Linked DNA regions of Homo sapiens. The protein of the gene in region 3 purifies or fractionates together with the protein of the main gene of each other region. This does not show direct contact. Each region holds a gene or a part of one and is shown on either strand. Other genes may lie near its edges.

The links.
Region 1: the proteins of PRELID3B (region 3) and SPHKAP purify together in Homo sapiens (affinity purification with mass spectrometry; one large-scale study listed by BioGRID and IntAct). This does not show direct contact.
Region 2: the proteins of PRELID3B (region 3) and ETFB purify together in Homo sapiens (co-immunoprecipitation; one large-scale study listed by IntAct). This does not show direct contact.

What each region holds. Positions count from the first base shown.
Region 1 is NC_000002.12:228,178,748-228,182,979, forward strand, and holds the start of SPHKAP (A-kinase anchor protein SPHKAP), read right to left. Parts: upstream 2,941-4,232; 5' UTR 2,852-2,940; coding exon 2,820-2,851; intron 1-2,819. UniProt on the Homo sapiens protein: Anchoring protein that binds preferentially to the type I regulatory subunit of c-AMP-dependent protein kinase (PKA type I) and targets it to distinct subcellular compartments. May act as a converging factor linking cAMP and sphingosine signaling pathways.
Region 2 is NC_000019.10:51,347,029-51,349,543, forward strand, and holds part of ETFB (electron transfer flavoprotein subunit beta), read right to left. Parts: intron 31-2,515; coding exon 1-30. UniProt on the Homo sapiens protein: Heterodimeric electron transfer flavoprotein that accepts electrons from several mitochondrial dehydrogenases, including acyl-CoA dehydrogenases, glutaryl-CoA and sarcosine dehydrogenase.
Region 3 is NC_000020.11:59,036,141-59,039,795, forward strand, and holds part of PRELID3B (PRELI domain containing protein 3B), read right to left. Parts: intron 2,495-3,655; coding exon 2,326-2,494; intron 1,141-2,325; coding exon 1,051-1,140; intron 621-1,050; coding exon 550-620; intron 434-549; coding exon 331-433; intron 1-330.

The DNA.
Region 1 (4,232 bases), on a different chromosome or scaffold from region 3:
CAGCTTGGTTTCCTTATGGACGATATCTTCCAGCTTTGATAACCAGTGATTTTAAGAAATCTGTGACGCAATCCACATAATTTACTGCACCTTTAAAAATGAAAATATTCATAGTAAAAATGAATTAGAGTTTTCACAGAAGGAAGGGAATACAGTTTAATAACTCAAAGAACCCAAAACATTTCCTTAAAAAAAAAAAACATGTTTTACAGTTTCTGAAGTATATGAGTCAAATTTAGTTTTAATATCAATCATCACAGAATATTGCTTGATTGAAATTTCAGTAATTTATATTTGTGTTTAATTGAAAATTCTAAGAAAATGGAAAAGCCAACATAAAATATATTCTATAATTAACTCAATGTTATTAAATCATTTTGTTTTCTCTAATGATTAAGTAGAATGTCTTAAATTGTTTTCTAATTCTTAAGAGAAACAGTGATTTATAACCACCAACTTAATTTTATTAGATACCAAAAATGTTTTCAGACTTGGACATCACAAGCCTTGACAATAGCAATTTGATATTTGCTGATCATTGTTGGTTTCTTCGAAAAGCTTATGTGGAATATTCAATAATCAATTCTTTAAAATGCAATGTTTTGTGAACAAGTAGCATGACTAATACATGATTTGTCTACACCATTAAAAATTTTAATTTTCTTTTTGCATCCCAATCCCTATGGCTTTCAATTAAGTCTTATAGAAAAGGAATGGTGTTTCTTGTATACAATGAAATAGAGGATTGAATCAACTCATGTACAGGAGTTAATTTACATGATTAAGAATGCTAATAAAATACCCGAAATTACTACACTGATTTGTGGATTAAGAAGGCTAATAAAATACCGGAAATTACTACACTGATTTGTGGAAATTGGTGAATAAAAAGTCAGGTTCAAAAAGCTTAGTTTGCTGCAGCTGATATTAAGCCTATATTAACATTTTGATAGGCCACTACAAGATACAGAGCAATATCATCAGAGTTGCTTTGCTCTTTATAAGGTCATTTTATAGTACTGAGACAGAAATAATTGTAATAAATTACTGGCACAATGTGTTTCTAGTAATTTAGAAAATGTTCCGGTATTTGAATAGAAATATAATCAGGATTCAGGCGCAGCTATATTGGTCTGTAAAACCGGATTAAAGCAATCAATCTGTTATCAAAAATCTCTGTCGGAAGATTATTAGGACCACCCAATTCACCGTTTCAATTCTAATGACCATTTGCCCTAGACAGTAGAATAGATAGGTGGAGAAAGTGAGCTTCCAATTTACATGACTTTCCAAACACCTTAATGCCTTTGCGTAAACATCACTGGCAATTTTTTTTAAGTTAAAAAATCGGCAAAATGGAAAGACAGCGGTGGTCCTTTGACCCTGTTCCGCTGGGGCAGGGATCGGGAGGGTGGGGATTGAGACTTCACTTAAGAGCTGCTTCAAGGAGTGCACAGAAACCACAGCGGGCCTTTTCTGAACCATTTGCTATCCCCGCAGCGAAGGGACGCTTAAGGAGGAAGTGCCTGTGGAGCTGAGAAAGCGTTATTTCATCGCGGAATACAAATAATTCAGGTCTCTAGATGGCAGCCTTCAATGCCTTTGGAAAGCAGTCTCTCTCCTCCTCCGCCACCCCCACCTCCCCTCCCACCGCATCTCGGCTCCTTGGCAATGTAGTATCACTCCATGTGTGCCCTGGCCAGTGGATATTGGGTTTTGCTGCTCTCCAAGAATCCGAACTTAAAGTGTTTATTCTAGGGCCTGGTGCTCTGCTCTGGAAGCTACCTACCTACCTGCTTGGGGAAAAGAGGGAGTAGGGATGGCACGAAGAGCCACGCTAAGCCGCTGCCCAGGAGAGGTGGGGCTGCGCCGCAGCCAGGACACCCTCTCCCTGGGAGCAACAGCATCCTTGGCTCCCGGCGCGAGCGCTCCGCGCCCAGCGAGCGCAAAGAGCGCAAAGGCCACCTGCCCGGCTGGGGGAGCAGGCCCAGCACCACCGCCCCGATTTACCCAGACATTTATGGGAAAGACATAAAAATCTCAGGTTCTTAATTTCGCAAAGGACTGAGTTAGAAGGAGTGTGGAACAGGGGCAAAAAAGAGACAGGAGAAAGAAACACACCCCGAAAAACACGTTACTCGCACCCGGCAGCGCCTGGGGTGGCGTCCGTGACCTACCCCGGTGTGGGGGACGAGCAAAACCAAAGGTGTTAAAGAAGGAACTCGCAGACTGGCAGGGGGTGTGGGGACGGTGGAGGACTGTGGGACTGCAGGGGACCTAGGTGTTTTCTGCCCTGTCTTAAGATCTCGCTTTGGGGGCAGTCTAGGTGTCGGTCGGGGGTGAGGGACAATCTTCCCCACCCCAGCAGCCCCAGACACCCGCCCAGGTCAAGGTGGAAGGAAAGCGGGGGTACTTTGCCCTAGCCCGGTTCCCTCCTGTTTTAGACCTTGGAATCTGTCTCTCCACAAGGTGTGAAACCTCTCCAAGCTGTGTCCGCGGAAAGTCCGGCTCCTGGCTCCACCTAGGGCAGAGCAGACCTCCGTCCCTGGGCCTTAGAGGCGGGCACGGGGCTGACCCCCAACCCGTGCCACTCCAGCGCACAGGCCCCACTCAGCATCGCGCCCTGTGGGGCAGTTGACAGGGTCCCCTGTAGCTCCAGCGAGGCTGGGCCGGACTTATTTACAAGTGCAGTGACCCCTGTCTCCTCGCTGGGAGCCCCGTGCAAACCGAAGCGCTCTGGGGCAAGTTGGTGAGCGACTCACAACGCGGAACGGAGTTTGATCGACATGGTATTGGGCATAGAAAGAAGCGGGTCTTACCTTGGTACCGAGAGCAGGGAGTTGCCATCCATTGTTGGTGGGCGCCCAGAGAAGAAAGACGGAAAGTGCAGGCGAAGGATAAGTCTGTGGTGCTAGGACCCAGCTCCCAGAGTGCCAGACTGGCGCGCGCCAGGAGAGAGGCGCGCAGGCTGGGGCGGCGGCGGCGCCCACGGAGACTAGCTCCTCCCTGGCCAGCAAGCTCTGTGCGCTGCGACCGCCCGCTGTCCCCTCCCGCCGTCCTCTCTGATCTTGCAGGAGCGCGTGGCCAACGCTCCCACCTTTCTGCCTGGCTCCTGCCTCCTGCAGGCGGGCCCCAGTCTCAGTTGCTCGAGGATCCTGCTCTATCGCTCATTCGTGCCCAGAAGCATAGGTGACTCCGACAAAATTCCTCTCTCCCCAACCACCATCGTCTCCCCTCCCTTTCTCGCTGGCGTACAGTAGGTCTGAGCCCTGAAGTTGTTCACGCACTTTCCCACATTCACGCCCTCACTCCTGGCAATGCCGACACTCCCCACTGGTTGCGCGCCACTCCTCTGGCTTCCTGTGTCGATTTCATTTTTGTTTGTGGTCTACCATGTTATGGTCGATCACTCAGAACGATGCTGGCTTTGACCTCCTAAGTCTTTTCCCTTTATTTGGACTTTCTCTCTTGGTTTTGGTTTTCACGTTTCTTTAACTCATTTTGCTTAACTGTGACTTAGTCTTCTCTCTCTTCTGTTAGAACCGTGTGCGCACATAGAAATCTCAAAACCTATGAGAGCGGCCATCCATCCGAGGACAGCACTCAGAACCTGGGAGGGAGAGCTGTCACAAACTTCCCCAGTTGACGGCTGGGTATCTCCCTGAGCAAAAAGGACAGTTTTCTTAAGAAGAAAGACACTGATAGTAGCAAATATCTGCTAAAATGAGGGCGCTGTTGAATCTGCTTCTTTTTCCAATTAAAAAACAAATTAAAAATAAAATTTGGGACTTCCACAAATGGGAAGGTTGAGCCAATGTACTTTTAGCTATTCCTCCTAGTAAGTACAACGAAATCCCCCGGATATTATCTCTGAAACAGGCATGAGAAAAAGGTGGACAGAAGAATGCAGACCAGCTAGAGATCCTGGGACTCAAGGCTTGGCATGATGATGGGTTCCTGAGGTTCTCCCAGACTTTGGCTGAAGAAGATGACAACCCGGAAATGTCAAGGGGCAGAGACAGGAAAAGCCTTGACAAAGGACTCCTCTTTCTAGCCAAAGGATCAGGAGAGAGGCAGCTTAGCAAGATGGAAAATTTACACACAATAATAGCTCCACTGTGGCCAAACACCATGAGAAAAAACCTGTGGACCTTTTTCAACTACACCATCAAAGGCCAAGTAGGGAGCCTACATTTCACCATCTGTAGGCTCTAAGGATGTAAGTCAGTCCC
Region 2 (2,515 bases), on a different chromosome or scaffold from region 3:
CTCCAGCGTCACCTGGGAGGCGAATGTGCCCTGGGGAGGGACAGTGTAGGAGGAGAGTGGGTGAGGCTAATTCAGGTCCGACCCGAGCAGTCTGCTTATGCCACTACTGAGTACACGCATGGACTAGTGAATGAATGAGGGAGCGAACAATGCAGGGTCCCATGAGGTTTAGAATCGAGCTTGTACACCTGGGAGAGGGTCTTTTTCCTTTCCCTGAGAGCCACGGTGTATGTCCTGATGTCCCATGTCCTGATGCTGCCAGTGAGGCCTCCCTGCCTTCCTGACAGGGAACATGTACTGAGTGCTGAGCCCTGTGCTAAGCAACTGATGTATCAAGTCATCGAATCCTCGCAGGAACTTTATGAGGTAAATGTTATTATCCCCACTTTACAGATGAGAGAAACTGAGGCAGCAAGATGCTGAGTTACACGCCCACTGCCACCCACAGCTGGTAAATCCAAAAGCTGACAATCTGGCTCCCAACGGCCCCCCGTGAGGCCCCTCCGCTGGGCAGACAACAGAACTGTGTGTGTCCACACCAGTCCTTAAACCACCTTCTGGGACCCCGTCCTCTAGCCAGGTCCCTTTGCCTCTCAGTCCTGAATCAACATTTCCTCCCCTGGTAACTGATGCCACCTACACTCCTCTTTGTCTAACGACCTTTGTCCCTGTCCACTTATTAACTGGACACATTTTTCAGGTCTTAGTGTGAACATCACCTCCCTTCATTCACAACCTCCTCCTAGTGCCCTTATGAACCTGCCCCTGGAGACACACTGTGAACACGACCAGTGAAGCACCAGCTTGGGTGGGCTCATATTCTGCCAGGGAAGACAACCAGTCACCAGGGAAAAACACACACACACAAATGAGATCATTTCCAATCAGAAGGAATAAGAAGAAAATAAGACACATGATATGAGAGCAAGAAGGGCGCACGTTGGAGAAGCTAGTCAGACAGTGGTAAATGCTTTGAAGATAAAACAGGATAATGGTTTTGAATGTGTTGTCCCATCCAGTAGCCACTGGCTGCGTGTGGCTGTCCAGCCAGTGCAGCTGAGGAATGAATTTTTACATTTTATTTAAATTTAAATACTGATAATTTGGCCAGGCGCAGTGGTTCATGCCTGTAATCCCAGCACTTTGAGGGGCCAAGGCGGGTGGATCACTTGAGGTCAGGAGTTCAAGACCAGCCTGGCCAACATGGCGAAACCCTGTCTCTACTAAAAATACAAAAATTATCCAGGTATGGTGATGCACGCTTGTAATCCGATCTACTCGGGAGGCTGAGGCAGGAGAATCGCTTAAATTCGGGAGGCGGAGGCTGCAGTGAGCCAAGATCGCGCCACTGCACTCCAGTCTGGGGACAGAACAAGACTCCACCTCAAAAAAATAAAAATAAATAAATACTGAGAATTCAAGACACATTATCATGATTGTGGTGATGATTTCATGGATGTAACACATATCAAAACTTAAATTTTGGAGGGCTGAGGTGAGCAGCTTGCTTGAGCCCAGGAGTTAAAGACCAGCTTGGGCAACATAGTGAGACCCCCATCTCTATCTAAATAAAAGAGTTTAAGAAAAGCAAACTTAACAAATTGTGCAACTTAGATATGTGCGGTTTATTGTAGGTAAATAACTCAACGAAGCTGTTTAAAAAAAAAACAAAAACAAACAAACAAACAAACAAAAAAACACAGATACCCAATGCAGTTACTGGAAATGCAGTTACTAGAAAACTTTTAAGTTTGTTTTGAACAACTTGGGTGTGTAAATCTATTTCAACTGTCATCTTTAGGAATGTGTTTCTCATAGAAATTTAGCACCTGAATTGAGATGTGCTGTAAATATAAAATACATGCTGAATTTTGAAGATTTAGTACAAAGAAAATCCAAAAAACGTAAAATACAGATGGTCCCTGACTTATGATGGTTTGAATTAAGATTTTTCAGTTTTCCGATGATGTGACAGTGATAAACATTCAGTAGAAACCATACTGCCAGTGTCCGTACAACCATTCCGTTTTTTTAGTTCCAGTACAGTATTTGATAAATTACATGGGATATTTAGCACTTTATTATAAAATGTGCTTTATGTTAGATTATTTTACCCCACTGTAGGCTAACGTTAAGTGTTGTGACATGTTTAAGGTAGGCTGGGCTCAGCTATGATATTTGGTAGATTAAGAATATTAAATGCATTCTCTCAGTTATAATATTTTCAATTTATGATGGATTTATCAGGACGTAACCCCATTGCTTGTAGAGCATATGTATCTTAATATTTTTATGTTGATTACATGTTAAAATAATATTTTAGATATAATGGGGTGAAATAAAATATAATTTTGTCTGTTTCTTTTTACTTTTTTATGTAGCTGTGAAAAATTTTAAATTTGTCTATGTGCCTTGCTTCTTTTTTTTTTTTTCTTTTGAGACAGGGTTTCCCTCTTTCACCTAGGCTGGAGTACAGTGGTATGATCACAGCTCACTGCAGTCTTGACCTCCTGAA
Region 3 (3,655 bases):
GAGCACTTCCTCAGTGCTGGGCCTCAGGCTACACACTTTCCATATGTTATCTCATTCACTCCACGCCAACCCTGTAAAACGGGTAATCTCCACTTTAAAAACGGGAAACTGAGGCATAGAAAGGTTAACTTAGTTGCCCAAGGTTAAAAGGCTAAAAGTTAGAGCTTGGATGTGAACCCAGAGCCTTTGTAAGTAACTGCCCAACGTGCTGCAGTTTCCTATGGTAGAATGGGCAAGGGTCAGCTTACAAGGACACACATGCAGTCAGCACCCCATTCCATTCCCAGGAAATGAACCAGGGAATAATAACCAAGAAGCAGCCTCACTTACTTTACTAGCATTTGAGGATATCGTACTTGCCATCAGTCCTTCAAGGTAACTGCTGAGGCTAACTCCTTTCACGGTAATTATGGCTTCTTGTGTCAAAACAGTTCTGGAACAAAACATATTCACACAGGTTCAGATGACCCAGCTTTCATTTTCAAAAAACTTGATAAAAAAACCTTAAACACCCTTTACGATACATTTGTTAAAATATTTTTTACTCACTTTTCTGGATCCTGAGGATGTGGTTTGTATATAAGTCTCTCATCTACTGAAACCATGTTTGTAAATGAAATCTACAGAATGAAGAAAAAAAAAAAAGATCAAATCATTTTGGAACTGAAGATTCAAAATGTTGCTAAAATCAACACACAAGCCAAAATCTTACTAAACATACAAAACAACAAATAAACCGCTGCTATTATTGCATAAACTATTCACTGCCTACTTTTTATTTAAAAAGCAAAGTTGAGGAAATAAAGTATAATAATGATAATACACATAATCCCAAACTCATTTTATTGAGTGCTATCCCCTTAGAGATAGGCAAGATCATGAGAGCAGGAAGGGTAAGGAAGCAACATCCAGGGCCAAGTTAGGCCAGCACATAAGCAGGGATTCTCTGAACCACATCATGAACACGCACTCACTTCTACGGCAACTAGGAGAGGGACAAAGAACTCAGCCAGACAGTTCGAAATGAAACAAAAGGGAGCCAAGACTTACATTAGTAGATTTAAGTTCCATTGTTTTCTCTACAGGATCAACTACAGAATGTTCTTGCACATATGTTTTCGTTCTTGCTGCACCAATAAGCTAAGTAAAACATTCAGAACTAGGAATCAGAGGAGGAAGAATTTCTTACCAAGTCTATCAATATTTTATTTGAAGGAAAAAATGTGTTACAATATTTTGAACCAAAAATCTGTTTTCTAAAAACCAGAGGAAACAAGCAAAGGTCAGAAAGGAGGCCTATTCACATATCATGGATGAGAGGAGACTGCCAGACACAAAAACTTTTCCCGGAGGCAATTAGAAACCAGCCCACTGAGAACGTCTGCAACGTGAGGCAGCACGCTGAATCTGCCGCGGTGCGACGGTGGAGCGCTGAGGCTGAGATATGGAAATCAGGTTTGGGGCAACATGGCAGCTAGAAAAAGGAGAACTCAAAGGCATCTGTCAGTATCTTCCTAGAACAGCCCAAGGGAGGGGGCACCTCAGCTTCATTCTCCAGACAGAAAAACAGCGTTCTTACGATGGAGGCTCACACGTCAGTGTCCACTGTCACTCCCTGTGCTATGACCCCAAGCCCACCCCCTGACCCTGCTCATTTCTGTGTCTGCACTATGGTTTGCATAAGGAGGCAGTAAGTACATTCCTATTGAAAATGTGTACTTTAGTTTTCTTAGTGAACCTACTCTCCATAAAGAGACCCTCTAAAGAAACCTGGATCCACTTATTATACCAGTTTTCTCGCATTATGGTAAACTGGCATTTTAGTTTCTTCCTGGTAAAATCTGCTCACTAAAGCCTGCTCATTCTTAAGGGAATAGAATTGTTTCTAAATGTACAGGAAGGAGTTCCAGACCTTGGAACAAATGTGGCAATAACAAGTCCGAGAACATAGTCCTTACTTAATGTACACAACCCACCACTGACCACAGAACTGTCACCTAACAATTATGACCAGACCATTACTGCCAAACCTTAGTATTGGTCTCAAGTTGCTGGCAAAAGCAGAAAAAGCAGAATAGAACTCCTTTCAGATCACACGGCATTAGCTGGCTTCCTTAAGAAAATTTTATTGGGTGCCTTCATGAAGACTGTAATAATATTTCCAATTCATTATACACTCATAATTCAAGTTTATTATAATACAACTTGAACGGATGCAAAAAATGACATTCAGAATCGGCTCCCACAACCTATTTGAAAGTATAATGCGGTTTAGAAAACTTCTCTACAGCAGTCACATTTCTCCGGGAATAAAGACACACTTACAGACTTCACAATGGAAGGCAGTCCCCACTCTGTGCTGAGAAGTCTGTGGCTGTGCAACTTTCCAGAGGGATCTATATGTCTGTCCAACACATCAACTCCAACCACACTTGGGTTCATAGGGTTTGGGTATTTCTGCATTGCAGCTGTTGTAACAGTTTCCCACGGGTGGCTGCCGATGTGAACCAAAAAAAAAAAAAAAAAAATTCAGACATTTAAAATTATGCATATGAGTTAAACAATTTTTATAATCTATCAAATCATTCATTACAATGTAAGTTTAATGAGTTTACCTAGGAAAAATTACCTTCTGAAACACTGATGATTATGGGAAACTGATCTACATTTTTAACAGGCTTCAGTATTTTTCCACAATACAGGCTATGTAAAAAAACTCATATCTATAAAGATCAAAGCAGTCTACACCATCTTTCCTACTTATCCTTATCCACTTTCACATGTAAATTGTTTCTAGGAAGAACCAATGATTCATGAAAATGTATTTAAAAATTATGTTCTACTGAAACAAATAGCCAAAAGTATCATTATGCCATTTATTATTTTTTCTGACCCCAATTCTATCAGTTTATACGGAAGTAACAAAAGTAAAAGAGTTTATGGGCACTATAAATTCTTACAGGGATCACAAAAAGATCCAAAGCATTGATTTAATTATTGAACTTTCCCTTCATTTTAATGTAATACATAACAATGGCTCCTCCAGTCAATCTTTATCTACTGTTTTTCTCAAAAGAGTGATTCTGATTTCTGTTTTGAAAAGGTCACTCAATATAATAAAATGTCCTTAAGGTGCACTCCTAATATACTATTTTCTAATATTCTCTTTTAATATAATAAGCACTTGCTTATCACCTAGTATTGAAGTGGTAATAATATCACATCACTTGAGAACTTGCAGTATCTTTATTTTCTTCAAAAAGGCACATGTGCTTGGATGATTCAAAATGTGATGCAACCTTTGTTCACTTCACAACTTCTGTGAATAAGACACTTGTACAAAAAATATCATTTTCAAAAGGACCCCTTATTAAGTACAATCAGTATTAAAGGTGACTTAGTCCACCTGCAGTCTGATTCGGATGCTTTCTACACTACTTATCTGTGCTCTCATCTTCATTTAAAGGAAAAAGACAAGATCTGGGGATGATGTTCAAGCCACAATGACTGTTAAGCCACACAGCATTACTTTTTATTTTTCTAAAAGTAAAACAAGTAGACATTATTCCAACCTTTTAGAGAACTCAGATTGACAACTACATCTCGTTGACAAAAGGAAAATCTCAACTCCATTAATTTCCCAGAACCCTGGACA